Linked DNA regions of Homo sapiens: regions 2, 3, 4 and 5 are each linked to region 1. The links come from fine-mapping of genetic effects on gene expression. A gene starts in region 1. Each other region holds a variant in brackets. All regions are shown on one strand. Distances are between the middles of the regions.

What was found. PIP is the estimated chance that this variant, and not a neighbour inherited with it, causes the effect. A credible set is the group of variants that fine-mapping cannot tell apart.
Region 2: its variant is the best candidate, but not a certain one, in a credible set for the expression of LIG4 in visceral fat (GTEx, PIP 0.61).
Region 3: its variant is the best candidate, but not a certain one, in a credible set for the expression of LIG4 in cerebral cortex (GTEx, PIP 0.52).
Region 4: its variant is the best candidate, but not a certain one, in a credible set for the expression of LIG4 in transverse colon (GTEx, PIP 0.72).
Region 5: its variant is the best candidate, but not a certain one, in a credible set for the expression of LIG4 in whole blood (INTERVAL, PIP 0.51).

What each region holds. Positions count from the first base shown.
Region 1 is chr13:108,212,653-108,218,788 of GRCh38, forward strand. LIG4 (DNA ligase 4) reads right to left here and starts at 2,884. Exons shown (of 3, transcript NM_206937.2): 1 at 2,832-2,884; 2 at 1,886-1,958. It overlaps ABHD13 (abhydrolase domain containing 13), which reads left to right and starts at 5,740. Exons shown (of 2, transcript NM_032859.3): 1 at 5,740-6,007. RefSeq lists enhancers at 2,809-3,103, 5,413-5,742 and silencers at 2,947-3,086, 6,023-6,136.
Region 2 is chr13:108,233,268-108,239,626 of GRCh38, forward strand. ABHD13 (abhydrolase domain containing 13) reads left to right here. Exons shown (of 2, transcript NM_032859.3): 2 at 1-976. Among named protein-coding and RNA genes, the nearest start is that of ABHD13, 18 kb to the left of the region's middle. The variant G/A (reference allele first, on the strand shown) is at 3,298.
Region 3 is chr13:108,188,609-108,194,967 of GRCh38, forward strand. No RefSeq gene overlaps it. Among named protein-coding and RNA genes, the nearest start is that of LIG4, 24 kb to the right of the region's middle. RefSeq lists an enhancer at 5,951-6,359. The variant T/C (reference allele first, on the strand shown) is at 3,043.
Region 4 is chr13:108,258,037-108,264,395 of GRCh38, forward strand. No RefSeq gene overlaps it. Among named protein-coding and RNA genes, the nearest start is that of TNFSF13B, 8.5 kb to the right of the region's middle. The variant G/A (reference allele first, on the strand shown) is at 3,981.
Region 5 is chr13:108,180,745-108,187,103 of GRCh38, forward strand. No RefSeq gene overlaps it. Among named protein-coding and RNA genes, the nearest start is that of LIG4, 32 kb to the right of the region's middle. The variant C/T (reference allele first, on the strand shown) is at 3,290.

The sequences.
Region 1 (6,136 bases):
TGTGACTCCCCATCTTCCAATTCGCAAACAAATGAGCAACACACACATGCACAAGGCTACATTATCTAGTATCCAGTAAAATAAATCAAATGGCTAATTACAATACTACATTTACTATACTGTCAGTATCTAGAGGCCAGGAATTGTGCTGTAATTTGTGCTCTAGTGGCAGACATGTAGGAGGTTTGCTGAATGAATTACTGAACACCTAGAGTTGACTCCTGGATAAGCACACTAGGGAAAGCTATGGTCTGGTTACATACCACACACTCACACACGCACGCAGACACACAGTGGGTGAGATTCAGTTTGGTTAAAAATATTCAGTAGCTCTGACTGCCCTGGCAATGGTTTACAACAGCCATTTGGTGGCCTATAGAGAAAAAAGGTGCACTTCTCAGTCTAATTTCTGACAAAGGAAACCCAGCTTCTACTGAGTGGGTTAGATCGAGGGATAAACGCATGACAGACCACTTTCCTGAAACTTTTATCTTTGAATATACTGTTGTTTCCTCTCTCTGAATCTGGTTTGCATAACTGACTGTAACACCTGGTTATGTATGTTCACTGCCCTATCTCCCAAAATTTGCTCCCTCAAGGGAGTAAACAGGGTACACAATGCTATATCTACAATTTCTATATAAACTATGTAAAATAAAGTAGGTTAACTAATATTTCTTTAATATTCAAATATTGGTATATAGTTTCTACAGATATATCTATAGATTCTACATGGTCTCAAAGTTAAAGTTTCGCTCAACAAATCCCAGGCAAGGACTTAAATTACTTTATAATGACAAAATGTAGGTAATGGTGTGGATACACATGTATCCTAAAATGGCTACGCCTATAACAAGGATTCCAAAATTGCCATAAACTAGTCGTAAGTATTTTTGCTCATTACAACGGCATAAAAAGTCAAAGATTAGGACTTCCATTCATTTTTACATGCTAATTTTATTTTTTGGATTCTGAGGATTTTAGCTGATTCATTCCATTTGCAGTAAGACAAATGAGGAGGTTCCTGGTTAGGGCTCAGGTTTTAGACTCTAATAAATCTGAGTTCAAATGTGGATGGTAACATTTAACAGCTGTGTGATACTGGGCAATTACTTAATTTCTCTAAGCTTCAGTTTCCTAAAGTATAAAATGGGGTTAAAAACTATGTAGAAATTAGAATGAAGATAAAAATCAGATAATCTACAAAATGTGCTTTAAAAAGTAGTAAGTCTTGATAATTTTAATACTATAATGCTTGCTGATCCAAGCAACATTTAAAATATAAATATTGCAAAATATTAACGAGATAAAAAGGTGGGAAGAAGCTTCACTCTTTAACAATAAGCAAAGCTTTCAGGAGAATGAATGCAAGCAATTAGTACACAATAACGATTCATCATTCATTCAGTTCTGACTAAATTGTCCTGAAGTGACACATGAAAATAAACCGGCAGGTTTTATTCAGTGACTATGGAAGGTGATTAAGTGCTATGCTATTGCACTTAAAAAAGAGAGAGGAAAAAAAGGAGTAAGTGACGAATGCAACTGAAGTATCCTTCATGCAACCCTTGACAAGCTGTGTTTCCCTAGGAAACAAAGGGTTTACAGCTGCCTATCTTCCACAGCACTTAGTGACAATTTGGGACAATCTCAGCAAAAAGAAATGAGCAGACAAAGACGCTAGAAGGGCTTTGGGATCCCAAAAGTTAATGAAAGACCAAGTGTAAGAAGAGAAATAAAGTAATTCCCTCCAAGCCTAAAGTCTCTCCCGCTCCAATGCCCCCTGTACCCTCTCGGAAAATGGAAAATCCCTAAGGAGTCTACATCATTCCTCTGCCCGTTCCCCCTACTCTCCCCCAACCCTTCACGGATTCCCAGTGAATACCTGGCCTCGGGCAAGCTCCGTTACCTCTGTGAACCAGAGAATCCCAGCTGTAAAATGAGATCTTGATGGTTTCCTGCGGGGTTGCCATGAGAAAGAATCAACATGTACGCAGGTAAAGCAGGCAATACAGTTCCAGGGAGTCAAAAACGGGAGAAATCGTCCCACGACCTGGGGCTTGGGTCTAGATGAAGAGCACAGCATCAGGAGGCCAGGCTTCTAATGCGGCGCAGTCTACAGCGCTGTGGACTCGGCAACTCCCATCACCTGCCGCTGCACAAACACCCTGCTTGCTGCCCCCATAGACCGACCCCCGCCTGACGCCTCCCAGACCCCCCCACCTGACGCCCCTCAGGCCCCCCGCCTGACGTCCCAGACACCCCCACGACCGGATCCCCCAGACCCCCAATCTGACGCCCCACTTCCCCTACTTGACTCCCCACACATCCCCCGCCTGACGACCCCCCGACCCCCGCCTGACGTCCCAGACACCACCCATCTGATCCCCCAGACCCCCAATCTGACGCCCCACACCCCCCACTTGACTCTCCACACACCCCACACCTGCCACCCCACGTAAACCCCGCCTGACACCTCACAGACCCTAACCTGACGCCCCACAGACCTCCCCCGCCTCCTGCCGCCACACACACCCCAAACCCCGCCCCGAACACCCCCCACCTGCCGCCCCACAGATTCCCCCCTCTGACGCCCCACAGACCCCCAACGTGACGCCCTACAGACCCCAACCTGACGTCCCACAGATACCCCGCCTGACGCCCCACAGACCTTCCCCCGGTCTGTTGCCCCACAGACTTCTCGCCGCCTGCTGGACCACACCTTCCACTTGACTCCCCCCACACCGTCAATCTGCCACCCCCCACCCCCCCCACCCCAACCCCCCCCAACCTCCCAACCGCCCCCACCTGCCACCCCACACCCTTCCCACCTGACGTCAAGCCTGAAGCTCAGCCGCTAAGCCGGAAGCTGGCGCCAGAAGATGCCGGTTCCGCCAGCTGCTCGCCGCGCAGGCGCAGGGGAGACCCGGGGCCTTGCAGTCACCGGGCTCAAGCACGCCGGCGCAGCCAGGCTCGCGATGGGAGGTGGGGGGGCCGGCAGCCCCGTGGGGCTGCGGAGGCGGGACCTGCAGGATCCTGGTTAGGGTCTTGAGTACACACGGCTCCTATTGGCCTCGGCAGCAGATGCTCTCTGCAAGCAGTTGATCCACACGCCAGTGGATTTTGTCTCGAGGGAGACCTAAGATCACTTTGTGCTCTGGCTAGTGATAGCCTCTAATTCTTGTTCTCTGTACGTAAAACAGTGGTAACTATACTGATTTCGCTGGTTGTGAAAACTCCCAAGAGAGAACAGGACATCCTCCCAACTCAAAACGTTGGTTGTTTCATTTAAACTTTTAAAAAATAGGCTTTTGCAAACTATATAGAGCTGTTTTTTTTTTTAAATGATGTTTGCTACTGTGGTCTCAGTTCTCTTAATACAGAAATAATACATAACAATACATAACTTACAATATAGAAATAAACCGTTGCATGACCAGAAATCAACTATGGACTCTTCTAGTATCTGTTTAAGGTTTAAAAATAAAGTTATTTAACAAACCTTTATTGAGCACCTATTATTATATAGTAATGGTGCTAGATATTCAGGGTGGAGAGATTATAAACAACCCCAGTTTTTGTGTTCCAGGAGCTGTTGGTTTCCACCGAATTTTTGCTGTGGTCAGTCCTCTTTCGCCATGGAGAAGTGAGAAGTTATTCATAAAGAGGGGTGGAAACAACTTTTAGAACTATTTTATTTTAGCATAAAATATTGCTTTACAATAAAATAAATTTTGCTGCAGTGGGCCCTGATAAAACATATTAGAGCTGTTAAGTGCCCTTAGAGGTTGTGTAATGTATAAAAACCTCCTTTTTCAAAACTGACACATTTCATTCAGTGCTAGTTTGTAGCGGAGGTTCCGTCTAGCCCAAGAACATTCAGTTATTTACTTCGTATGTCTAATTGACCTAATATGCCTGAATATCTAAAATCATCTGTGATGTTGTAAAGTCTCATGATATTGTTTTGTGAGTATCTGCTCTTCAATTTAGTTATCAATTTATTTTGGAGGAAAAATGAATAGTGTTAAGGTAGAGGAGCCTCCACTTGCCCATCTTAGGAGAGGGTACCTATCCGTGTACATTTGTAGCTTGTTCAACCTCTACTGAGCTCCTACAATGTCAGAAGCTGGACTTTGTATTAGTTACATGAGAAGAACCATGAATTATGAAACCAGGCAAACTCCAAATTGATTCAAAGCCCAGTCTCCATTTCATCATGTTATTTTAGTTGATTGGTTCAAAGACAATCAAGGGTTTTTTTCACTAAGTATCTTCTAGAGTTGCCATGATTATTAATTTATTTATGTAAATGGTCTACTTTATATATGCTTGGCACTTATTCCGTGATCAAGATTAGGAAGCTATGATTCAAGAACCCAGCTTTGACCTGGAGCTCTCCATCTGGTAGCAAGACACATATGTTCAATAACAACAACACCACAGGCCGGGCCAGTGGCTAATGCCTGTAATCCCAGCACTTTAAGAGGCTGAGGTGAGCGGATCACTTGAGGTCAGGAGTTTGACACCAGCCTGGCCAACATGGTGAACCCCCGTCTCTACTAAAAAATACAAAAATTAGGCCGGGCCTGGTGGCTCACGCCTGTAATCCCAGCACTTTGGGAGGCCGAGGTGGGTGGATCACCAGAGGTGGGGAGTTTGAGAGCAGCCTGGCCAACATGGTGAAATCCCGTCTCTACTGAAGAAAAATACAAAATTAGCTGGGCGTGGTGGCGCATGCCTGTAATCCCAGCTACTCCGGAGGCTGAGGCAGGAGAATCGCTTGAACCCGGGAGGCGGGAGGTTGCGGTGAGCCGAGATCTTGCCATTGCACTCCAGCCTGGGAAACAAGAGCGAAACTCCGTCTCAAAACAGCAACAAAACAAAAACAAAAAGTAGCGGGGCGTGGTGGCGGGCACCTGTAATCCCAGCTAGGTCAGAGGCTGAGGCGAGAGAATCGCTTGAACCAGGGAGGCGGAGGTTGCAGTGAGCCGAGATCACGCCATTGCACTCCAGCCTGGGCGACAAGAGCGAGGCTCCATCTCAAAAGGAAAAAAAAAAAAACCCACAGATTTATGAAATATCCTCTGTATATATAAAATAGGGGACATAGAATAAGGAAAGCCCAAGGGAGGGGAGGCACACATCTGTAAACAAGTGTGTACACTTCAGTGCACAGGGGGGTTGACAGCGAAGCTAATGAAGCCCAAGTTTTAAGGGCCCATTTTTGCGAACACTTCCAAGGCCTTGAGAGGGGCCCTAACGAGGTGTTCCCATGGTCGTGTACCTCGGTAAAATTTGCAAAAATAAGACAATTTTACATTATTTTTCTTTAAAAGGGCTCTCCAAATGGCACAAGGTTCAGGCCTCACAAAACCTGCATTCGCCCTTGACAGTCCACTCTCGTAGAGGTAAAAGGAGAAAAATAGTTATGGAAGCGCTTTAAATCGTGGACCTCATTGCGACACCCTTAACAACCCTATCAGGCAGAACAAATTGCTCCGCAAACCTGCGGCTTGCAGAGCGATGGTGGACTCCCGAGCTCATCGGGTCCGGCACCTCTTCACCACGGAGGCCTCGGGTACGGAACTGGAGGGAGTCCTGGTGCTCGGAGGAGGGTGGAAGGCCAAGATCCCTAGGTCCTGGAGCAGGGAGCCGGGCCCACGCCGCCGAGGTATCTTTTCCGTCCGGGCCACCGTCGCGGGGGCTCACTGGCAGCGGCTTCTGCGCATGCTCGGAAGAGCGGGCAGGGTTCCCACTCCGGGAGCGGAGACGGAGAACAGGTTATGTGGGAGCCGGCGGGGGCATTTGCCGGCGACACCCGAGCGGGGGCCGGAAGTGGGGCCACAGCTCGCAGCAGGAGCTCCGGGCTAGACCGTGGCGCCGGCAGCGGCCCCTGGGCTGGAGGAGGATGATGAGGAGCGACGGAAGCGACGCGGGGGTACGCTGCTGCGCGGCGCCCGGTTTCGTGCCCGCGGCCGACTGCGCAGCCTGTCCGCGAGTCTGAGTAAGTGCGGCTCGGGGACCCCGAGCCCGCGGGGCCCGAGCGCCGGTCCGCTCCTTCTAGGAGGGTCGCGGGGAGCCGCCGGCTCCTCCAGGCGGGCGCGAAACCCTCCCGGGAGGCTGTGGGGGGAGC
Region 2 (6,359 bases), 21 kb after region 1:
AGTTTGGCTTTGTGGGAATAGGTGTGGAGAAATTAAAGAGTGAAGGCCATATTTCATTTTTTATAAATTATCTTTCAAGCTCAGATAGCTTAAGAGCAGTTTATATTAAGGAGACCCTTTTCTCCTTGAGGATAGGGATAGGTAAGGTAAACTTGTAAAAAGGATGTCACAGAAGTCACTTTTTAATTAAGTCATGATTGAGATACTGAACTCTTCCACTCATTCTTCTTTCCCATTTTCCTATTATGTTTGATAATTATATGTATTTTTAAAAACTGTGAGAGGAAAAATTAGTCATAACCCTTTTGGGTTATCCACTTAAATTTAGGTATTTTCATATTACTCAGGTAAAGATGGAAATGACAGAGCACAGACATTTATTTTTTAAATTGATAGGGTAGAAAATGAAATGTACTTCTGTTTATTCTTAATACTATATATATATATACACACATAGTTTTAGCAAATTGGAAATAATATATTCATTTGTATGGCAAGATAAATGCAGTCATCTTAATACTAGTCTATACATTTTTGCCAAATGGCGCAAATATACCTCCATTTATATTTTGTATCTTAAAATGTAGTTTAAAAATAGGACCATGTATGAGACACTTTTTTACAAAAAGTGCCGTATATACATATGTAACAGGTGAGTGTGTGTTTAACATAATTTATAATTATTTCTGTCAGTACAGCGTATATGGAAAATTCAAGTTGTTTTTAACATATTCAAGTATGTTCAGTATAAAATAAGTTAATCCCATTTCATAATGTAAATCATATTTTTGTTATTTGCCATATTTTATTTGAAGTGATAAAATTTTATAACTCAAATTTGAATGTCATAGTACATTGTGTGCTAACCATGGCAAGCAAACATTTACATTTGTTTTTTACAATAAATTTCTTTTAAAATATACTTTCTATTTTTCTGTACTGACATATGCAATAAATTGGTACATTAAAAATTTGATTAATGTCTTCAGATAGTTTGTATTCAGTCTTTTTTTAAAAATTGTTAATCTAGAATTTTATGGTAGGACATTAAAATTTCTTCAATGGTTACGTAAAATTCCTGAATTTGCACTGAAATTAATGAATTTTATTCTAGTAATGGTGTGGATAAAAAATAGAAGTTAGATTTATATTTCCTTCCCCGGAGAGTATTATCCTCTTACATATATTTAATTTAGGCTAATATTAAAACTATACATAAACCACTGGTGAATGACTAATCCCTAATGCATTTCTTTAGTTAATTGAATCTAGGAATGAATACATTTTAACTTCATAATTATGTTGCCTTCAGATTTCATAAAATGCTTTTTTTTAAAAATTCTGCTTTTCCCCCCCTCTTGTTTGTATTTTAGTTAATGGTTTTTAATGATCAAAAAATGACCTGATACTAACTCAGCCTTTAGGGGCCTATACCTTGCTTTTCCTAACAAGAAATGTGCATGCTTGAATATGTCAGAAGGAGTTGGATCATAGGAAGTGTAAGATGAATCTTAAATGGTCCCCTGAAAGGGAAGATGAAGAATTCACGTATTGGAGCCCATCTTTGTATGGGTAGATCTAGTGGGAGCTAGGGTCTCTCATGTACTACCCTGAAAGATAGCCAACTTGAATCCCAGGGTGAAGTCATTTTTAGATTACTATTTCTTAAATTTGAAAGATAAGTTTTTTTCACATTCCCATTTCACTCTCCAACTCTTTCATTACATTCTGTTACATACTAAAAAGCATGAACAATTAGATCTGGCTAGAGACTATAACTCCTATCTTACTAAGGGGAGAGGAAGGTAAAGAAATTTTTTGAGTATTTTCAAATATAAGGCCCAGGTGTTGAATGTGTTAATGTCATTGAATCCTCACAACAAACCTTAGAGTGATTTGTAGTCCCATTTTGTAAGAAATGGCTCGGAGTGGTTCAGTAACATGCTCAAGGTTACCTAGAGTGAACCAAGATGTCAATCCAGGTCTCTAATTCTAAATCGAGGACAGCTATTCATTTGCTAATTTACCCAAACAATTTGAAAATTTTGTTCATGTTGGAATAGATTAGAAATATTGAAATGGGTTACAAGTTGGTCAGTTATTTAGGAATCCAAAAGAATTGGCTGTGAATTGAAATAAGTATTATACAGTAAAGTACATGTTTTCAAAGTCATTAAATGTGTGTTTCTATAGGAAAATCTAGATAAGAGTTATCCTCTCAAAAAATCTTGGAGTTGTCTTTTTGTTCCTGATATTTTGAAACACATCTTGCTGTTTTTCCAATAAGATTTATTTTCCCAACATTTCCACTACTACCATACTAGTCCCTGACATTATTTCATAGTAGTCAACATTTTTATTGGGTGATTTTTGTGTTCAAAGTATTGTTCTGACTCCTTTTTGTCGTTTATTCTTAATAACTGAATATGAACTGGATCATTGCCCCATTCTTTGTAACTTACCAGAAAAACTCCTTATCATTCCCTATCCAGTGGTTTTCAGTGGCTGCATTTCTCAGTAGATCAAAGTCAGAGTTCTCATTCTATGGGGTCCTTTACAAACTAAACCTTGTAAAGGGTATCCGTTCTTTCTCTTTCTTGAATCAAACTTACTCCTCTTCTGTGCATTTATTTATATCTGGTGCTTTAACCTCTAGATCCAGTGCCTCCCTCCCACCTCTCTAGGCCTCTGAGTCCCTGACCAAATTTATGGTAGCTCTACCAGTAGCTTTTTTTTTTCTTTTTCTGAACACCCATTGCATTCAAAGCATTTTGTATTTTGATACCTGATTATATTCAATTCATTTCTTTATAATATATTGTCTTTTGATCTGACAGGAATGTCATGTGATTCCTGTCTTACATGGCACCTGGCACAGTGCTGAGCATGTTGTGGTACTAGATACATTTTCTGTATAGAATGTGCACACTGATTATAAAGTTTGTCCAAACTTCCATCTTTAAGAAGAAAGGCACGAAGGCCATTACTTTAATACTTTACATTTCTTAAAAGTTTAGACCTAAAATAGCAACAAACCTGGAAGTTACACACAGCCCAAAGCAATAATTAAAGTGGAAACATTGGAAGTTACCCGTAATTACACGGGTCTGCAGAAAATAAGAGGGGCAATAATTGTGCAGGTCGTATGTTCCCTGAGGGCTCCTTCTTAAGCAGAGCAGAAGAGCCTAGTAACAGTAAGCTCAGGGAGGAGAGGAGCAAAGAGTACAGATGGTGGATGTGAAACAGAGATCAGTGGAGATCAACAAGTGTGGCAGTATCAAGTAGATCTGTTGGATA[G/A]GACAAGAAGAACCAGAAAGTCAGGTGGGCACATTAGTGGAAGGGCAAAGAAGCCCTTGTCGTGGGACATCCAGTTTGGGAGATAGTGACTGTCCCCAGTTTTGATTTCTTTCCGTAATTTTTTTTTTTTTTTTTTTTTTTTTTTTGAGACGGAGTCTTGCTCTGTGGCCCAGGCTGGAGTGCAGTGGCGGGATCTCCGCTCACTGCAAGCTCCGCCTCCCGGGTTCACACCATTCTGCCTCAGCCTTCCGAGTAGCTGGGATTACAGGCGCCCGCCACCAGGCCGGCTAATTTTTTGTATTTTTAGTAGAGACGCGGTTTCACCATGTTAGCCAGGATGGTCTCGATCTCCTGACCTCGTGATCGCCTGTCTCGGCCTCTCAAAGTGCTGGGATTACAGGCATGAGCCACCGCGCCCGGCGTCTTTTAACCCTGTACCCATGGTTCCCTTATTAAAAATTTATCATCATCATTACTTTTTAAACAAATGAAATGACACAGACAGTTGAATTAATGTGACACTGGCATTTTTCTTAGCCTTTTGTTCCAGAGCCTATTTCTTGAGGTATGAGTGAGTTCCAGGCTCCTCTATGCAAAGAGCATGCATGTCTCAAAACACAGGACAGACTGCATTAGGGAGTGTGTGGGAAGGGCAAAATCTCTGGAGACAGTAAATGCTATGGAATGACTATTTGTGCTCTCCCAAAATTCATGTGTGAGATCCTAATCCCCAAAGCAGTGGTATTAGGAGGTGGGGATTTGCGGGGCAGTGACCTTATGAGTGTGGAGGAATGAGGGCTCTCATGAAAGGAAGAGGGCTACTCCTACCTCTCTCTGCCATGTGAGGATACAAGGAGATAGCTGTCTACCAATCAGTAAGAGAGCCCTTACCAGACATCGGGTCTGCCAGCACCTTGATCTTGGACTTTCTAGCCTCCAGAAATGTGAGAAATAAATTTCTGTTTAAGCCATTTAGTCTCTGATACTTGTTACAGCAGCCCAAAGTGAGTAAGACAATAAACAATCCTAATTCTTTCTTAAAAGTGGCCCTGGAGATGAATGAGAGCTGATTTAATAGTTTTTCTTTTTATTATTATTATTATTATACTTTAAGTTTTAGGGTACATGTGCACAATGTGCAGGTTAGTTACATACGTATACATGTGCCATGCTGGTGTGCTGCACCCATCAACTCGTCATTTGGCATTAGGTACATCTCCTAATGCTATCCCTCCCCCCTCCCCCCAGCCCACAACAGTCCCCAGAGTGTGATGTTCCCCTTCCTGTGTCCATGTGTTCTCATTGTACAATTCCCACCTATGAGTGAGAATATGCGGTGTTTGGTTTTTTGTCCTTGCGATAGTTTACTGAGAATGATGATTTCCAATTTCATCCATGTCCCTACAAAGGACATGAACTCATCATTTTTTATGGCTGCATAGTATTCCATGGTGTATATGTGCCACATTTTCTTAATCCAGTCTATCATTGTTGGACATTTGGGTTGGTTCCAAGTCTTTGCTATTGTGAATAGAGCCGCAATAAACATACGTGTGCATGTGTCTTTATAGCAGCATGATTTATAGTCCTTTGGGTATATACCCAGTAATGGGATGGCTGGGTCAAATGGTATTTCTAGTTCTAGATCCCTGAGGAATCGCCACACTGACTTCCACAATGGTTGAACTAGTTTACAGTCCCACCAACAGTGTAAAAGTGTTCCTATTTCTCCACATCCTCTCCAGCACCTGTTGTTTCCTGACTTTTTAATGATTGCCATTCTAACTGGTGTGAGATGGTATCTCATTGTGGTTTTGATTTGCATTTCTCTGACGGCCAGTGATGGTGAGCATTTTTTCATGTGTTTTTTGGCTGCATAAATGTCTTCTTTTGAGAAGTGTCTGTTCATGTCCTTTGCCCACTTTTTGATGGGGTTGTTTGTTTTTTTCTTGTATATTTGTTTGAGTTCATTGTAGATTCTGGATATTAGCCGTTTGTCAGATGAGTAGGTTGCGAAAATTTTCTCCCATTTTGTAGGTTGCCTGTTCACTCTGATGGTAGTTTCTTTTGCTGTGCAGAAGCTCTTTAGTTTAATTAGATCCCATTTGTCAATTTTGGCTTTTGTTGCCATTGCTTTCGGTGTTTTAGACATGAAGTCCTTGCCCATGCCTATGTCCTGAATGGTAATGCCTAGGTTTTCTTCTAGGGTTTTTATAGTTTTAGGTCTAACATGTAAGTCTTTAATCCATCTTGAATTAATTTTTGTATAAGGTGTAAGGAAGGGATCCAGTTTCAGCTTTCTACATATGGCTAGCTAGTTTTCCCAGCACCATTTATTAAATAGGGAATCCTTTCCCCATTGCTTGTTTTTGTCAGGTTTGTCAAAGATCAGATATTTGTAGATATGCAGCATTATTTCTGAGGGCTCTGTTCTGTTCCATTGATCTATATCTCTGTTTTGGTACCAGTACCATGCTGTTTTGGTTACTGTAGCCTTGTAGTATAGTTTGAAGTGAGGTAGCATGATGCCTCCAGCTTTGTTCTTTTGGCTAAGGATTGACTTGGTGGTGCGGGCTCTTTTTTGGTTCCATATGAACTTTAAAGTAGTTTTTTCCAATTCTGTGAAGAAAGTCATTGGTAGCTTGATGGGGATGGCATTGAATCTATAAATTATCTTGGGCAGTATGGCCATTTTCACGATATTGATTCTTCCTACCCATGAGCATGGAATGTTCTTCCATTTCTTTGTATCCTCTTTTATTTCATTGAGCAGTGGTTTGTAGTTCTCCTTGAAGAGGTCCTTCACATCCCTTTTAAGTTGGATTCCTAGGTATTTTATTCTCTTTGAAGCAATTGTGAATGGGAGTTCACTCATGATTTGGCTCTCTGTTTGTCTGTTATTGGTGTATAAGAATGCTTGTGATTTTTGTACATTGATTTTGTATCCTGAGACTTTGCTGAAGTTGCTTATCAGCTTAAGGAGATTTTGGGCTGAGACAATGGGGTTTTCTAGATATACAATCATGTCATCTGCAAACAGGGATAATTTGACTTCCTCTTTT
Region 3 (6,359 bases), 24 kb before region 1:
GGCCAAAGTTAAAGACACATATTTAATTTTTAGTTCACAAAAGTGGCAAAAAAGAAAAAGGGATAAAATTAACTAAAAAATACAAGGGATAGTTGTATTAGAGAAACTGAGGATGTAACATTTTGCATGCAAAACGGCTGATGCCACGTATGGATCAGGGTATAAACTGGACTTGAAATATTGAGTGCATTTAGGCAGTGGTGAACTATAGAGATGGTGAAGCAGATGTCTGGGTTAAAATCCTGAATACATACATTACCAGTTTTCTATACTTGAGCAAGTTATGTAACTTATCTGTGCCCCTATAACCTCTTCCATAAAATCAAGTTTAGAATAGTACTTATTTGTGCTTTGGTGTGAGGATTAAGTGAACTAATAGTGTAGGTAAAGAATTTAGGATAATTCTTGACACACTATAAACACTCACTGAAGAATAGCTATTTATTAGCATCATGTATGTCATGTTACAGATTTTGGACTAAATTTTATAACAATATATACATACATAAAATACATAGTATTTTAAAAAGGAAAATGTAATGGCAGTATGAAAAATGATTCAGAAAGAAGGTAGACAAGTTAAGAACACTGTATTTTATTAGATGAATAAGTCTTAGGTTACTCCTTCAAATGGGGAACATAATTACACCTATCTCCCAGAACAAATGAGATAAGATTCATTTAAGTTATTAATAAACTGAGATATTATGGACAAAATGTAGTTGCAAATGTAAGTAAACAACACTATCTTGGTTGGTTGGTATAAATGGTCACTCCCAAATGGGATGGAAAAGGAGGAGATACAGAAAAGATAACATGAGTGAGATTCTCAGATTTAGAGGTAAAATGAAGCCCCCATTCCTTTGCAATTTTTTTTTTTTTTTTGAGACGGAGTCTCACTCTGTCGCCCAGCTGAAGTGCAGTGGCGCGATCTGGGCTCGCTGTAAGCTCCGCCTCCCGGGTTCACGCCATTCTCCTGCCTCAGCCTTCTTAGTAGCCGGGACTACAGGCGCCCGCCACCACGCCCGGCTAATTTTTTGTATTTTCAGCAGAGATGGGATTTTACCGTGTTAGCCAGGATGGTCTCGATCTCCTGACCTCGTGATCCACCAGCCTCAGCCTCCCAAAATGCTGGGATTACAGGCGTGAGCCACCGTGCCCGGCCTCCTTTGCACTTCTATTTCCCCGGTGTTTAACCCCAAATCAGATTAGAATCTCGTGGGAAGAAGGGAGTCGTATTTTCCCTACTCTATAGCTGGACATTATAAACTGGCAGTATTGTGATTGATTTAATGCATTTGCAATTGTTTCTGGGGGACATTTGTTTTTGTATTCAAGAACAAATAAACATAACTTCCCAATCTGTTCAATGTTGGTGGTATCAGAAAAACACAACAGCAATTAACAAACGAGGAGAAAAATCCATATGTCATTAATGCCTAAAATTAGGTGTGTTTGATGCCAAACCATCATTTACTCTTCCTGAGTGTGAGGCACTATGAGTGACAGGAATAGGGAGAAAATGTGGATTCTAGAGTTCACCCAGACCCACACCTGATGCTCAGCGTCATTGCTCTGGATGTGTGTGGACATTCCTGCACTGCAGTGCTCCTGAAAGCAAGACGCCATAAACAAAAACCAAGATGGCACCTCATCAGTGTTGCTCTAATTAGAATAAAATATCCCCATTTTACAAATTGATCTCATACAGTGTAATTGTAAAGCTTTAAGAACAATGTAAACTTAATGCTTTTAAATCTTAAAAAAAACAGAAATAGAAATACTTTATTTCTTAAATCCCTTTGGGAATACACAGCCAGGTTTTTTGTTTTCTTTTTTTCTAAAAAAAGGGGTGAATTTCCAATTCAAGATAAAACTTTCCTTAATGTAGAAATGTTAGAGAACAGCGCTCTCAAAGGCAAAATTCTAAATGTGTCTCCTGGAAACACAAGATGGAAGCAACAACAAAAGAGATAGAGCTTTCAAGTCTTATCTACATTATTCATTAAAACAGACAGAACAACTAGAATTACCAAAAAAACTCCAAAATGAACATTTTCAACAAAACTAGGAGGAAAGTATCCTACAAACTGTGGCATATAAGGGGATGGGGTTATGCCAATTACAACACCAAGAACTGTGTGGACACAGCAGCTGTACTAGACAAAGAAGAAGGAAGACAAGGGGGACTTCTGATGGTTCTAACAAACTGGAAATTCAGAAATTACCAACACTCACTTTCAAAAAGAGGAGTCCCCACTGAAGGTGAAGGATCTGAAAACAGTGCTTAGAATTTGAAGGGACATTTGAAAGCTTGGATGTCAGTGGAGCATTTAGGGCTGGGCTATGGAAGCCTACGTCATTAGGGATTTCTGAAATTCTCAGAGAAGGACAGAGCCTCATATTGAGGGGGATCTGTGGAGGAACATGTCTCCCATTTAACATAACAGAAATGCTGGAAGTAAAGAAAATAGGAAGTTTAGTGATGGAGGAGACAAGAGGAGATGGATAGCTTAAAGTATTGGAGAGGTGGTTACATGAAAAGGCTGCATTTTTAGTATGTTGCAGAAACAACAAGAGAGGAAACCCCGTAAATATGAAGCTAGCAAGTTCACCCTGGCTCATGTCCAAATCTTGAACAACAGAAGCTTCTTTCTAAACGTACAGGAAAATCAATCTTACTTTACTATAATAGCACCATACAAGGTCTGCAGCCCAAATCCATACAAAGATGTTGTAAGAAAGATGAGGTCAAAATATGAGTAACTATTTTAATCTGTTTTAATGCTCCTGATAAAGGCATAACCAAGACTGAGTAATTTATAAACAAAAAGAGGTTTAATGGACTCACAGTTCCACATGGTTGGGGAGGCCTCACAATCACGGCAGAAGGTGAAAACGATGTCTTACATGTCAGCAGACAAGTGATAATGAGAATGAAGTGAATATAAAACCATCAGATCTCGAGAGACTTATTCACTACCACAAGAAGAGTATGGGGGAACCACCCTCATGATTCAGTTACCTCCTACCAGGCACCTC[T/C]CACAACACATGGGAATTATGGGAGCTACAATTCACGATGAGATTTGGGGCATAGCCAAACCATATCAGTGACATTCTATAGAAAATGAAGACACAGCTAAAGAATACAACCAAGAAAGAAAGAAAAAACATATAATCTATCATCTCAAAGAATGCCATAGTAAATTATGAAAATAATTAAATATATGCAGGAAAAGCAATATACATCAAAATTAGAAAACATCAGTACTGAGATATCTGAACAATAGGAGAACATTAAGAGAGAGTTGAGTATGCCCAGAAAATATTTTGAAATAAAAGAAAATGTTATTTCAGAAATTAAGCCTAAACTAAAAGGAACATAAGAGCATAGAAATTATTGTATGAGAAATCAAAATAGAAATAAAAATTTGAAGAAAATGAATCATAAAGCAAGGACATAAGAGATAAAAGGTATTCTAGAGAAAGTGAGAGAAATGGAAAATAAAGAGTAGTCAACATACATATAATGGGAGTCTCAAAGAAGAAAACTAAAGCAGTATTAGAAAAAGTGCTTAAGTGTATAATCCAAGAATCTATTTTGGATAATAAAAGACTTGAACTTATATTTTAAAGAGGCATACAGTGTACCTGGAAGAACTAATTCTGAATGCTCAACACCAAAAAACATTCTAAGAAAATAACTGAAACATTTGAAAAATAAATTATTTTGGCATCTAGGGAAAATCCCTTCCTTAAAAGAAAAAGATACCAAGACTTTTGATAGCAATGCATTATGCTAGATACAATGAAATAATGAGTTAAGATATTTAAATGAAGAAAATGTGAGCCTTTGATTTTATTTCCTCTTAACTAAACTTTAGACATAAAAGTCATGGTAAAGCTATTATAAAAATGAAATAATTTGGGAAGTTGTTTCCATAAGTATTACCTGATGAATCTGTAGAAAACAAGTCTCAATCCACCAACAAATAATCAAAGAAGTTTTGACACAATAATATTCATTGAAACATTTTAAAACATGGACATAAGAATGACAATACATATAATGCTAGATATATACAATTATAAAAATGGGAAGAGAAGGGAAAGAATGTAGGGAAAGTAGAAGGTATTTCATTTTAGGTGCTAACTGAAAGTAAAGAATATTCTATCAAAATACAAGCCAGAGGAGACAAAAAAAAAAGTCAGGGCCATATTTAATTCCAATATAGCCCTAATAGAGAACTAAATAGCTAGTACATTTTAAAAATGTAAGAGAAAAATAAAGCATTAAAGGTATTATTATATTTAGTTGTAAAGTTCACTCATTGAAAACAAAACAAATATTTCAAATTGCCAAAAATAATTGTTGAGAGGCAGTTAAAACATGCAAAAACAAAATAAATCATTCTTTGTAAGACTCAAACCACCTTAAAATATTAAAATCCAACAATGCAGCAGGAGGCCTCTTTCTGACCCATCCTTATCAATTCCTCTCTATCCTTAAAGTACCAACTCAAGTGCCACTTTCTTTCCTGGATCATCTCAGAAAAAAGAATCTTCCAAATATGGACACATCACATTTAATATCACTCTGCTTAGTTTAATATATGATCAAATATTGCAATCATATTTCTTTTTCTAAATTAAAAACTCTTAGTGGATAAAAATTTTCTGATATCTGAACCCACACTGTGCCAAGCATCATGCTTTTGCACATAGAAGGTATATAATGAACCTATTCTGAGTTAACCTGTGAATGAAAATGGGATTACATCACAACACTGAAACAGTGTAAATAAGCTAAGCTGATAGATAAAGAACTTTTCAGTGACTGGCCATAGAATGTAGAAGATCAAAAGCTTCTACGAGAAGACTCTTATCTTGGGATTTTAAGAGAACCCAGTCTAATTAGGGAGAGCTAAGAATGACTAAAGAAAAGCACATAAAAACTAGACTATAATGGCAAAAATCTCATGGACATATGAGACCTTAAATGCATGTGTCCCAATCTCCCATGCTTTGTTGTTTCTGTCTGCAGAATTCAGCGGGCTTGGCCACCTTGAGTGGGCTTCCAATATACAGATAACTCAGCTCTGGAGGCAGTTCGTCCTATACTTAGTCTGATATTCTGTTCTCCTATTGTGGAAAAATCTGCCATTTTCAAATTTCAGTATTCCTATTCTCCTCCGGAAGTCATCAGGAGAGAACACATTCCCTCTGCTCATGTCAGTTCCTCAGAATTTAAAGAAAGTTGCCATGTACACTGAAAATTTTCCTGGTCAAACTTCAAGGCTTCCCTGGTAACTGTCCTATCACTGTTCTGTATTTCAGATTTCACCCCCAAAATGAGTTACCCAGGAATGAATTCCATCAGCATGCATGTGAAGCTGATTCATGCAGGTAAATATGTTCCAGCAGGATTTGACAAAGCCAAACTCTACAGCTCTGACTTATGCCTCAACAAGGACACCTAATCCAGTTTTACCCCAGTATGTTGCTGATGAAAAAAACCCAACCCTGTACAACATTTGAAGAGATTTTTTCAGAGCCAAATGTGAGGGCTTTGACCTGTGACACAGCCTCAGGAGGTCCTAAGAATATGTGCCTAAGGTGGTTGGGTTAAAGTTTGATTTTATATATTTTAGGGGGCAGAAGTTAAAGACAGACATCAATCACTACATGTAAGGTGTACACTGATTTGGCCCGAAAAGGTGGAACAACATGAAGCAAGTGTTTCCAGATCGTAGGTGGATTCAAAGATTTTCTGATTGGCAATTGGTTGAAAGAGTTAATTATCTAAAGACCTGGAATCGATGGTGGCTGCAGCCTATTTGAAGCGGCCACTGTGAGGATGCCAGCTGCAGTGGGGGAAGTGTGGCTGGGCGCTCTGTGGAGCCAGCAGGGGCCGGGAGCAGGAGATCCCAGTGGGAGCCCCATGCCCTACCAAGTTGGCAGGGTGGGAGCCCATGCTCCTGGGTGCAACTGCAGCTGCCTAGCCATGGCTCTGGACCCAGGGATCCCTGCACTCTCATGGACCTGGGAAAACCCCTGCCCCCACAGGCCTAGAAGTACCTGCTCCTGCTGCCTGGCCTCTCCCTGCTGTCTGTGCCCACTCCAGTGCAGAGCCAAGTTGTGGCCAAGCCCAGGCACTGTCGTGACCCAGCTAGGTGTGCATACACTTGGGGTGGCACTGACACACCATCCACCTGCTGCCTCAGCTCCCTCTGGACTTTGGACACCAATCAGCATGGAAAGGAAGCTATGGGGCAGAGGGAGGCTCAGCACGGGTTTGAGGGTTCCACTCAGTGCAAACAGACTGGGCACTGTGGACAGAATGTTGATGGTGGCAGGAG
Region 4 (6,359 bases), 45 kb after region 1:
ACCTTATTATTTTACATTTTCAAACAAACCACCATGGCACGTGTATACCTATGTAACAAAACTGCACGCTCTGCACATATAAACCAGAACTTGAAGTGTATATATATATATATATATATACACACACACAAACACACACATACACATATATGTGTATATATATACATATATATGTGTATATATACACATTATATATAATGTGTATATATACACATATATATATGTGTATACGTATACACATATATATGTGTATATATACACATACCATAAAGCTGAAACCACTAAAAAATTATAGCATTGAAGACAAAGCTATAATATAAACACAATGATGTCCAAAAGAATTAATTCTCATCCAAAAGAATTTAAAAAGGGATAAGCCAAAACAATCCAGGTAATGAAATTAAATAAAGATAGCTAACACTGATGATTAATTATATATTGTTAGTTAAAACGTGAGCAAAAGTCATTCTTTATATAGACATATGTATATATAAAGAATGACTTTTGTATATGTATATGTATATATGTATATGTATATATGTATATGTATATGTATATGTATATATGTATATATGTATACATATATATGTATATGTATATGTATATGTATATGTATATGTATACGTATACGTATATATGTATATATGTATATATACATATATATGTATATATAAAGAATGTATATATAAAGAATGTATATATAAGAATGTATATATAAAGAATGACTTTTGTATATGTATATGTATATATAAAGAATGACTTTTGCTCACGTTTTAACTAACAATATATAATTAATCATCAGTGTTAGCTATCTTTATTTAATTTCATTACCTGGATTATTTTGGCTTATTCCTTTTTAAATTCTTTTGGATGAGAATTAATTCTTTTGGACATCATTGTGTTTATATTATAGCTTTGTTTTCAATGCTATAATTTTTTAGTGAGTACTGCTCTGGCTCATATGTTTGGTATAAGTTGTTTTCCCTTTTGTGATTTTCTAGGTAATTTCTAACCTCAGTTTCGCATACTTCTTTGACACAAACTTGACCTATGAATGTATTTTTACATTTTCAAGTAAGCAACTCTTTGATCACCTTTTTGTAATGATTTCTATTTTTATGAGATTATAATCAATGAATGGGATATATCACTTAGGTATTACTAAGTAATAAACCACCCTACTTTAGTGCCCTGTAACAGCTCCCCTTTATTATTTTTGTAATTCTGTGAGTTTTTCAGGTGGCTCTTGTGCCAGCTCCACCTGAGTTCATGTGTGTGGCCGCATGCCTCTGACAGCCAGGCTGGCTGGGGGTTCAAGATAGCCTCACCCACACATTTGGCAGTAAGTGCTGGCAGGTGGTTCAGGCACTTTAGTGGTTTTCAATGTATCTTCTCATCCTCCAGTAAGCTAGACTGACTTTCTTGCATGCGGGTCTCAGGGAGGCAGTCCTGTGTGTTCTACTGGTCAAAGCAAGCAATTCACAAGGTCAGTTCAGATTTAGGGGATAAGGAGACAGACCAACCTTATTATCAGTCACATTGCAAACAGGCATGCCACCAGAGAGTAGTTCTTCCAGTCTTTGCAAACTATCCGTCATGGTAGCCTGTAAAAGACTACTTTTTAAAGTTGTCCATTTTGATTAAAATTTTAAGTATCACTTGTGCATTTGGGGAAAAAGTTATCTTTTTGATAGACATAATTTATTATCTCCCTCTCATTTTTTAATATCTTTGCACTAAGTGTTATAATGTTAAATAATATAGCATCAATAACCATAAAGCTGAAACCACAAGAAAAACACCTGGAAATACACAGGAAAAAACATTAGATATGGGAAATTTTACTCATCTCTATTATTCTATGACATCATATAAACAAAAATGCAGATATTGTAGACTAAAATAATAAAATTATTAAGGATATCCCTTCTTTTCAAGTAGCTATGTTACATTCACACAAATGACAATACTATTAATCCCTAAAGAAACTCTGATTAAGCTTTATAAGTAGAAATTGTGAGAGAAAATTATCTGAATGCAATACGATAAAATAGAAGTTAGTGAGAAAAATGAAGAAAATTTCTGGAAATTAAAACAAATTAACAAATATCTCTTAAATAACTTTTAAGTCAAATTGGAAAGCCAAACAAAATTTTTAGATTAATTTATATTATTAATCGTTTCTAGAAAATAATAAGCACAATATATAAAAAACACAATAATAATAAAACACAATACATACCTGATATCATTGAATTTTACTAAGCAATGCTCTTGGGAAATTTAATAGCCTATCAACAAATAAGAAAAGAAATGAATGTTTGAACACTCAACTGAAGAAGTCAGACTAAAGAAAACAACAAAACAAACAAGTAGAATGAGACAATTCATAATGATAATAAACAGAACTATCTGCTGATTACTTATTTGACACTAACAAAACAGACAAGTTTTTGCTATTCTTTCAAGAATAAAAGGAGAAATTGTATGCAGACAATTTTTAAAAAAAATGCTTAACCACAGATACAAAAGAAATGGAAAATCAGATGAGAAACTGTTTTGTATAAATTTATCAAGTAAAAATTGAAATCATTTAAAATGATCTTATACAATAGAATTTAACTCCATGACACAGGAGTTTTCTTTTTTCTTTCTGACTTTTTTTCTCTCTGTTTTAATTTTTGTATGCCTAGTACCTAGAACAATACTGAAAGAGTGGATGGTGAATATCCTTCCTTTGCAATTGGTTTAGCTACTTTGTTATTTCATTTTTTTTTTGTATTCAAGAGAAATGCATGTATACTCCAATTTCCCCTTAATTTTACACACAAATTTATTCATAATATCCTCTTACCTGTTTAGGATCTGTAATAGCTCTAAAATGTCCCGCTTTTAAAATTTCTGTTATTGAAATTTCATACTTTCTCCTTTGTACTGTGTCTTACTACAAATTATTAATTTTATTTGTTATGTCAAATAACCAATTTTTAATTCTCTTTATTGTAAAGTTATTATTTATTTCATTAATCTCTTTTATATTTTTTACTCCAATCTTTAAGCTTAATTTGTTTTCACCTTTTAACTTGTTAGGGCTTTGTGACCTGTATGCTCAGATTATTTCTTTCCATTCTTCTTTTTAAAACATGCCATCAAAGATATGATTTTTCTCATAAAAATAGCTTTAAATGCATTTTACAAGATTTTATATACTTTATTTTCATCATATCCCAACAACTCTTTCTATATTCAGTAATACCATCAGACCTTACCTGGGTCGATTTTTCTCAGCATCCTTTCCTTCCTTCCTCCCGTCCTCCCTTCCTTTCTTTCTTTTCTTTCTCGGAGTCTCCCTCTGTAGCCCAGGCTGGAGTGCAGCGGCGCGATCTCTGTTCACTGCAAGCTCCGCCTCCCGCGTTCACACCATTCTCCTGCCTCAGCCTCCTGAGTAGCTGGGACTACAGGCGCCCGCCACCACGCCCGGCTAATTTTTTGTATTTTTTTAAATAGAGACGGGGTTTCACCATGTTAGCCAGGATGGTCTCGATCTCCTGACCTCGTGATCCGCCCAACTCGGCCTCCCAAAGTGCTGGGATTACAGGCGTGAGCCACCGCGCCCGACCTACTTGCTTATTTTTCTTTTCCAAAAAGCTACCCATACAGATTTTCTCAGCATTTTAACCTAGGACTTGATAAGCTAATTCAAACTGTAGTTTCAGCTCTTTCATAGATTAAGAAGCATTATTCTTTTCTCCTGTAAGTTTTTATGTCATTGCCTCTATTTAGTCTATATCCTCTCCCTCCTTTTATGTTCCCATTTTTCTTGCATGTGAGTTGCAAAACACTCTTGAGTTTTGAGATTTTACTTCTATTTGAGCCTGCAGGCCAGTAACTCAGTGCTCAAAAGTGACCATCCTTTTCTTCAATGCATGTATTAAATTATTTAATTGAAAACTATAGAGATATTTTTTAGTTCCTAAAAA[G/A]TTTCTTCAGTTGAATCTTAAGTCCTCTATTAGTTTTTAAAATTCAAGTTGTCTCCATCCCTTTGTGTTGTGTGTATGCTGGGATGTTCTGTGCTCTCCTTCTTTGATGGTTTATCTCTCCCTCTCTCTCTCTTTTTTTTAATTTTCATTGGAAGACGTTTATTTAGTCAGCATTTAACAGAGAATAGCAGAATCCATGAAGGACAAGTGTTCCAGGCACTAGAGATACAATAGGCTAGAAACCACACATTTCTGCACTCATGGAGCTGAACACTCTTAGTTTATCATTTCTTTCTGTACATATCTTCCCTACTTCCACCCTACCCTCTGCCATAATCTTTTTAAAATATATATATAAATGGCTTCATTTTCACATTTCACACAACCACAGCTGTGCATGCAAAAACACTGCAGTCTAGCCACTATTTATACGTCCAGCCACTTCTTGCATCTCTCCCGATATCCCAATTTCAAGCTTTCTCTCTTCAACACCTCCTGTGTTTGATTTGATGGCTCAGCTGGGGCAGTCTAGCCTCAGGAGGTGGGAAATCAAGTCCTGTCTAACCCTATGAGCCAGGATTGGACTAACAGGGAAACTTCTAGTCTACTCTGAGGCATTTGGGGGAGGCTTTTGTTTCTTGTGATCCCCTGATAGTCTCTCAGCTTTAGGGGCAGGGAGGACTAACCCCAAGCACTTACTCCCTTTGTGGGTACTCAGAGGCCCGGGAAACTTGGCATATTCCTGTGAGGCTGATGTTAGCCACTGCCTGGGGCCCACAGATTTCTGCTCAACCATTCTATCTAAGACCCATTGAGACTTGGGTCTCACATATAGTACTGCAAATACTCTCGAGAAATAAACCTCAAACATTATTTTTCTCTATCTAGGGCCAATTAGAGCAAAAAGCCCCTCGCTAACACCCAATTACCTCTAAGTTCTACTGCAATTTGGCTCAGAGAAGAAAGATAATTTACAGTTGTTAGTAAAGGAGAAGAAAGATGCATTCATGTTGCAGTTTTCTCAGAATACACTATATCTCTCTTACTTTTTCTTAGTTTGAAATTATTCCCTTCTTACACGGAGATGCACAAATTCTAATTTTGCATTTTTTTTTCTGAAAGAGTTGACTACGTTTTTTTGGTTCCACATAGAAAAGACAGATTCATTAAACACATCTTCACATAATAATAATTTTTCTTAAGATTCCTAACATATTAAAGAGCTTAAATTATTAAAAAATAGCTATATTAAAACTGGATGTAAGACTCTTTTTTTTTTTTTTTTTGAGATGGAGTCTTGCTCTGTCGCCCAGGCTGCAGTGCAGTGGCACAATCTCGGCTCACTGCAAGCTCCACCTCCCGGGTTCACGCCATTCTCCTGCCTCAGCCTCCCAAGTAGCTGGGACTACAGGCGCCCGCCACCGCGCCTGGCTAATTTTTTGTATTTTTAGTAGAGACGGGGTTCACCGTGGTCTCGATCTCCTGACCTCGTGATCCACCCGCCTCGGTCTCCCAAAGTGCTGGGATTACAGGCATGAGCCACCGCGCCCGGTCAAGACTCTTCTTAACAAATGAATTAGTTTTTCTAGCTTGTGGGTGTTGACCTTTTCTCTTTACACCGTAGTTTCAAAAAGTGGACATTTGGAAAATTTCTGAAAGAACATTTAAAACTCTCTTATACAAAGTTCTTTGGTTGTAAGAATACAATTCTTACAACTAGCAGAATTAGTATGTCTTTGGATCCTAATCAACTGCTAATCTAACTAGCAGATTTAGGATGTCTTTGGATGAATTAACACCTAATCTTGTCTCACATTGGCGTAAACAGTTAGGAAATAGTATGATCCAAATAACAAGCATGAAGAGTTGAGTAATCCAGCAGGACAATTATGTCCTTACAGAGCCAGGTTCCCTCCAGAATCCTGTTCTTGCCGTCACTGTTTCAGTCTGGGCCTGACGGCAGTTGCAGGATGGCAGTTCTCGGTGATCACAGACAGGCTTGTAATGTCTAGTGGAAGAAGAGCATCTCTTTCTTGTCAATCTCTTTAAGAATGAGGAACTCTTTCTTAGCAGTGCCCCCAGGAGACCACCTCACAACCAACTGTAAAAAGCCTCTCTCATTTGTCCCTCCTTAGCAATCAGTGGTGATGTAGATGGAGTCATCGTGAGTAGATTTCATGATTAGGACTTCCCTAAAGTGTGAGATTATGTCGGCATCCCACAGAGATAGATATCTAAACAAAGTCAGCGTCTAGATTTGGGGCAAGAAAGATTCTGTTAAGATGGCGAAGCAGAATTGGGCATACAGATGCTTCTGGCTTCAGAGCCTACACTCCTAAACCCATCCTCTTCTCAACATTCAATAAGCGAAATTTCAAA
Region 5 (6,359 bases), 32 kb before region 1:
GCGTGTGTAGAGGAAAGATCATGTGAGGACATGGCTAGAAGGCAGCCATCGGCAAGCCAAGGAGAGGTTTCAGGAGAAACCCAACCAGCCGATACCTGGGTCTCCAGCTGCTCTCCAGCGTCAGAACCGTGAGAAAAGTTTCTGTGGTGAAGCCACTCAGTCTGGCATTTTGTTCGGGCACTAATGCAGTAGCTTTGTATAATGCAAACACTTTGAGTCTGAATATCAATTCCCCCGCATACTAACTATGCCCCCAGGTTCTCTGGGGGCAGATTTTTAAAAATAAACCTTTTAAAATTTTAGAATAGTTTTTTTTTTTTTTTTTTTTTTTGAGACGGAGTCTTGCTCTGTCACCAGGCTGGAGTGCCGTGGCGCGATCTCGGCTCACTGCAACCTCTGCCTCCCAGGTTCAAGCGATTCTCCTGCCTCAGCCTCTCGAGTAGCTGGGACTACAGGTGCGTGCCACCACGCCAGGCTAAGTTTTTGTATTTTAGTAGAGACGGGGTTTCACCATGTTCACCAAGCTGGTCTACTCTCCTGGCCTCGTGATCTGCCCACCTCGGCCTCCCAAAGTGCTGGGATTACAGGTGTGAGCCACTGCACCCGGCCTAGAATAGTTTTATGCTTACAGAAAAGGTGCAAAGATAGTAGAGTTCCCATAGCCCCATTCCCAGTATCCCCTACTATTAACGTTTGATGTTAATATGGTACTATTAAAATAGTATTGTCACAATTAACAAGCCAAGGTGGATGCATTGCTATTAACTAAAATTCATACTTCATTTGAATGTTCTTAGTTTTTCATCAAGGTAAATTTTCTGTTCTGGATCCCATCCAGAATGTCACATTACAATTATTCTTCATGTCTCCTTACACTCCTCTTGGCTGTGACAGTTTCTCAGACCTTTTTTGTTTTATGATGGCCTTGACAGTTTTGAGAAGTATTGGTCAGGTATTTTGTAGAATGTCTCTCTATTTAGATTTGTCTCATGGATTTTTCAAGATTATGCTTGGATTATGAATTTTGGGGGAGAAAATCACAGCAGTAGAGTGTTATTCTCACATATCATATCAAGGGTCCATGCTATCAATACGGTTCATCACTTTCCATGTTGACCTTGACCATCACCTAAGACAGAGTCTGCCAAATTTCTCCACCATAACATTAGTTGTTTCCCACTTCCTTTTCTTTCTTTCTTTTTTTTAATTTTTTTTTTTTTTTTATTTTTGAGATGGAGTTTCCCTCTGTTGCCCAGGCTGGAGTGCAATGGCACAATGTCAGCTCACTGCAACCTCCACCTCCCTGGTTGAAGCAATTCTCCCACCTCAGCCTCCCGAGTAGCTGGGACTATAGGTGTGCGCCACCACGCCCAGCTAATTTTTGTATTTTTAGTAGAGACGGGGTTTCACTACATTGGCCAGACTGCTCTCAAACTCCTGACCTCAAGTGATCCGCCCGTCTTGGCCTCCCAAAGTGCTGGGATTACAGGCATGAGCCACAGAGCCTGGCCTGTTTCCCACTTTCAATACAGTAAGGCAAGATTTTAACCACCCCAAACCTCGGTTTCTTCTTTTTGTAAAATAAAGATAAAACTACCTCAAAAAGTTTTGGGAGCAATTCTACAAGCTGTTCTTAAATAACTTCCCTGGATTGCTGAAGCCTTTAGTTAATTAACAGCATGCTGAAAAGGTTGATGTTGACAAGTTACCAGTGTTTACATAGCTTTTGGAGGGGAGGATGTTTGAGGTCTTTACTCAGCCTTTCTCAGTGATATCACCTGATCTCACATCTAATTTTACATTCTTAATTTTTGAAAATTTTGTTATAGAAAGGCTGGGAAGTTGTATAAGTTTCAGGCCTCACAAAAGTTTAACTGTCTGTGGTATCAAGCGGTTATTTTAAGTTCTTGACAGGTATTCACACATTTAATCTTGACAACAGTCCCTTGAGGGAGATCCTGTGTTGTCACAATTTCACCTACTCGTACACTTAACCTTGGAGTTACTAAGTTAACAGCCCAGAATCACACAGCTTTTTCTTAGTAAACTAATTTCCCAATGTCACTCAGCCAGCAATATTACTCAGGCACTCTGGCTCCAGAGTCCAAGCACATAAACAACACTGCAACAACTTAAAATTGGTAGCAGGTGCATCCAGCTATTGCCAATACCAGGCCCCACCCAAACATGTTAAATCATTTAGTTTCCGCAGTTCGTTTTTGGATATTTCTAAAGTTAACTTTATTTCCTCCTCCACTTATCCTTGCTGGCCCAGGATTTTTTTCCTTTGAAATTAGACATTATTGACCTACCATGGAGCTTCTTTTTATCTAAATATTTATGAAAAATCAGCACTCTTATAGAATATTTACTTACCAACTTGTTTTTATGGAAACACTACTAAAACAAAAATACAAGCATAAAAGTTTAACAGAACAATAATATCTAGGCAATTTGTTAACAGGTATTTAATGTATACTATTATACTGTAAGTTACAATTAAGGGAGAAACCTAAAAATGTATATAAAAGACTGAATTTCCCCCAAAGAACTATTGAGACTATCTAGATAAATCAGAGAGTGATTAAGTACCAAATTACATGTGTTATGCTAGAATCACAACGGCAGTTCCAAGAGGGGGAGGTTTAGAGGGGCGAATGGAGTAGGTGAGACTAGGACTGAGCCATGCAAAATATTATGGAGATTTGCAGGCAGAGGGGTGGGTCAGGGGTGCTCCGGAATCTCTGTGAACATAGGCAATGATAAAAATGGTAATACATGTATATTTCCTGTATTTTTCCAGGAATGATTTATTGTAGACTGGTGAGGGAGCTGGACCAATGGAGAGAGAGCCTGATGATTAGAACAAGGATATCATGTTGAGAAATGGAAGCATAATTTGAGTGTTGAAGAGGAAGCAATGATGAATAGATAATGGGGATCATTACATGAGGTGTCTTTCATTACCAGGAAATGAGGTTCTCTGGTTTCTCAGCCCTAAGCCATTTTTTAAAATTGTTCTCTCTCTCTCTCTCTTCTGATTTTTGTTTGTTGCTCTTAATAGGCATGGTCTTCAAGCAAGATTTATGATCTACATGGGGGTTAGGAATGCTAAACTGCACCAAGTTATCAGGCTCATCCTAAGGGTTCCATAGAGAAGACAGAAAACAGGTATCACATGATTTGGTTACAATGCATATGATGTATGTTGCTAGCTTCATAACTCATAGTTTCTACCATTTTCACAAGGAACACCTGGTGAATTTTCACTTTTTAATCTTACTTCATT[C/T]TGATATGTGGTGCTACAAGATCAGTTCTTTGTTTAAAGAAGGTGGGAAAAAATGCGTGTATTAGGGCTCATTCCCTTAGAATTCTTCTTTGTAGACTGGGCCACGTCATCATTTTTACCTTAGACTTTACAGCAGAGAAGAATAAGTGAAGCTCTGTGATATTCCAATTTCTATTTGGTGTCAGCTATACTATCAATAAATTACTAGATTATGCCTGACCACATACAACTAGAGAAAACATAACTCCCACTTTCCCGTTAATAAAAACATGAAATACATAAAGGAATTGTTAAAAAATTAAATCGTTAAAATTAAACTTAACTTTTTAGTAAATTAACTTACTGAACAATTAAAATGAGCTAAGAGGAAAAAAGGACGTATCTTAAGAATTCTACTTGGAGAGCAAAATAAGATTTCTGATTTTGGTCTTTAGTTTCAGTACCCAGCATCATCTTTGAAGTTCATACCAGTTCCATTTATTTAGAACTTTTGCCTCTCAAAAGTATTAGAAAAACTCAGAAAAACACAAAACAAAGCACCCATAATTACATCACTTATATATAGTGCTCACATTTTGACATATGATTACAGTTCTATTTTTCTATGCATTTAAAATATACTTTTTAACTTACATATTATATCAACTGTATTGCACGTATGTGACTAAATCTTCCTCAATAGTTCCACAGTTATGTATCATATGAAATGTTCTATTTTCATTCATCTGTTTAGATCACCCTAGATTTTTTCCTATTGCGAATAATACTGTGATAAACATCCTTGCATATACTTCTTTCCATATCTGTGGGATTTCATTTTAAAGAGTGGTGCTAACCAAGAACTAGATCATGAAAACTGTAATTCGCTCTTACTCTGTTCAAATAAATGAATATAATTAAAATTATGCATATCATCTCCACCTCTCCCATCAGGTTTTCAATAGTAACTGATAATTAGCAACTGCCTCTACAGTGACCTCATTTACATAATTAACAAAATCCAATAAGGCTGAAATTTATTGTCCTGTTCAGTGAATCATAATCTGGCAGCTGTTACTACCAAGGCAGGCATTTGTGCCTGGCTGTTCACAGCTTGTCTGAAAAAGCATTTTGCTGGTGATATCCTCATGAACTTATTCTTAGGGGGCAATATGATAAGAAACACATCACTAGATTTCTCTATTGAAAAAAGTTCAAATTCATTTTACACTGGGGATTCCCATACAAAAAAAAGGACAACTCCTTCAATTAATAAGTGTACGCTAAAGAAAACCAGTATATTTGGAGAACTCCCATTTTGAGAGACACTCTAGAGGGAAACTATCTTACCCAAGCATCTCCTCTGTGACATTGATCAGAGAAAAACAACACTGCTGAGAGGAAACTGAACCCATTTGGCAAGTTCTTCTTTCATTTCCCATCTCAGAGCCAATCTGGCGTATCCATTTTTGACATGCCAGGTCTTATCTTTTTATTTACATTTACAGTACAAGAACTAATGCCCAATTGTGTTCATTGTCAGTGCAATAGTAGCAAGAACAGAAAGCAGTGAATCTCTGTTGTGATTCGACTAAGTTCTTAGAATTATTACTTATTCCTGAAAAATAAGACAGAACATCATTTGAATTTGGCTTGTTCTGATGTCAAACATGAATGCCAGCTAATTGTAATCATTATAAAAATGTGTCAAGAATATAGTCAAGTCTTCTTAATCCTGGCTGTTTCAGTTAGGTGACACGCCTTAAACCCCAACAGAACTTCCATGTGATTAAAATCGCTTTTTCATGCTATTTTTAATATTTTTAATAAACATGTTTTTTATTTTTAATTTCTACATATTAAATAACCAAATTGATATAGCTTCTCAATACTACAATTCATACAAAGATAACACTTTTATATTAGAAAGATGGTGACTGCACAGTCACACAGGCAAGGGCAATAATGTTTCCTACGCCTCTATGCAGACAACAGGGCCTGTGTTTTGGAAAGCTCGAAGGACAGCAGCGATTATAATTATTGGTGTAAATAGGTATTTCATTTGTTGGTCCTTTTTATTTTCAATAGATAATACACAAACATGGAACAAAATTTAGAGGGTACAAATGAATGTGTAAAGAGAAAGGCTAAACTTCTGTTTATCACCTCTGTCTCCCAAGATCCTCAGTTTCCTTCTTTGGAGGGGACACTTTGACAGTTCCCGTGCACCTCTGAAGAGAGCTGATACCATGTGTGAGCACACTCGTTCATTCCTCTTTTATAAAACAATGCAAATGGTGAAAGCCTCCACATAGTGTCTTACACCTTCTGTTTTTTTCTACTTAATGTATCTTGAAGATCCTTTCATAGCAGTACACATCAAAATGCCTTATTCTTTTTAAATACAGTCATGTGTTGCTTAACGACAGGGATACATTCTGAGAAATGGGTTGTTAGGCAATTTTGTCATTTTTAGGAATGCCATAAAGTGTATGACACAAACCCGGACGGTACAGCCTACTACACACCTAGGCCATTTGCTACAGCCTATTGCTTTTAGGCTATAAACCTGTACTGCATGCTACTCTACTGAATACTGCAGGTAATTCCAGCATAAAGGTATGCATTTGTGTATCTAAACATAGAAAGGGACAGTAAAACTACGGTATTATAATCTCATGGGATCACTGTTGTACATGCAGTTCTTTGTTGCCTGAAGTGTTGCTATGCAACACATGACTATGGTTGCATATTATCATTGCCTGATATATCATCATGTATTTAATCAAAATTCTGTTAATTAACATTTAAATTACTTCCTCTTCTTCAGCATTATAATTCTACAGTAACTAACCTTGAAAATATCTTTTTGTACATGTGTAACTATATTTATATGATAAATCTCTAGAAATTAAATTACTTCGTCCAAGCATAAATGCATTTTAAATTTTGATGATAGGAACTGCCATGCGCCCCCCGATAGTAAATCAGAATCAACACATAATATAAACATAAATATTTCTGTCAAAAAAGGATGAGAGTATCTATTTTTCTCACGCCCTTACCAAACAAAGTATTATTAAAGTTTTGC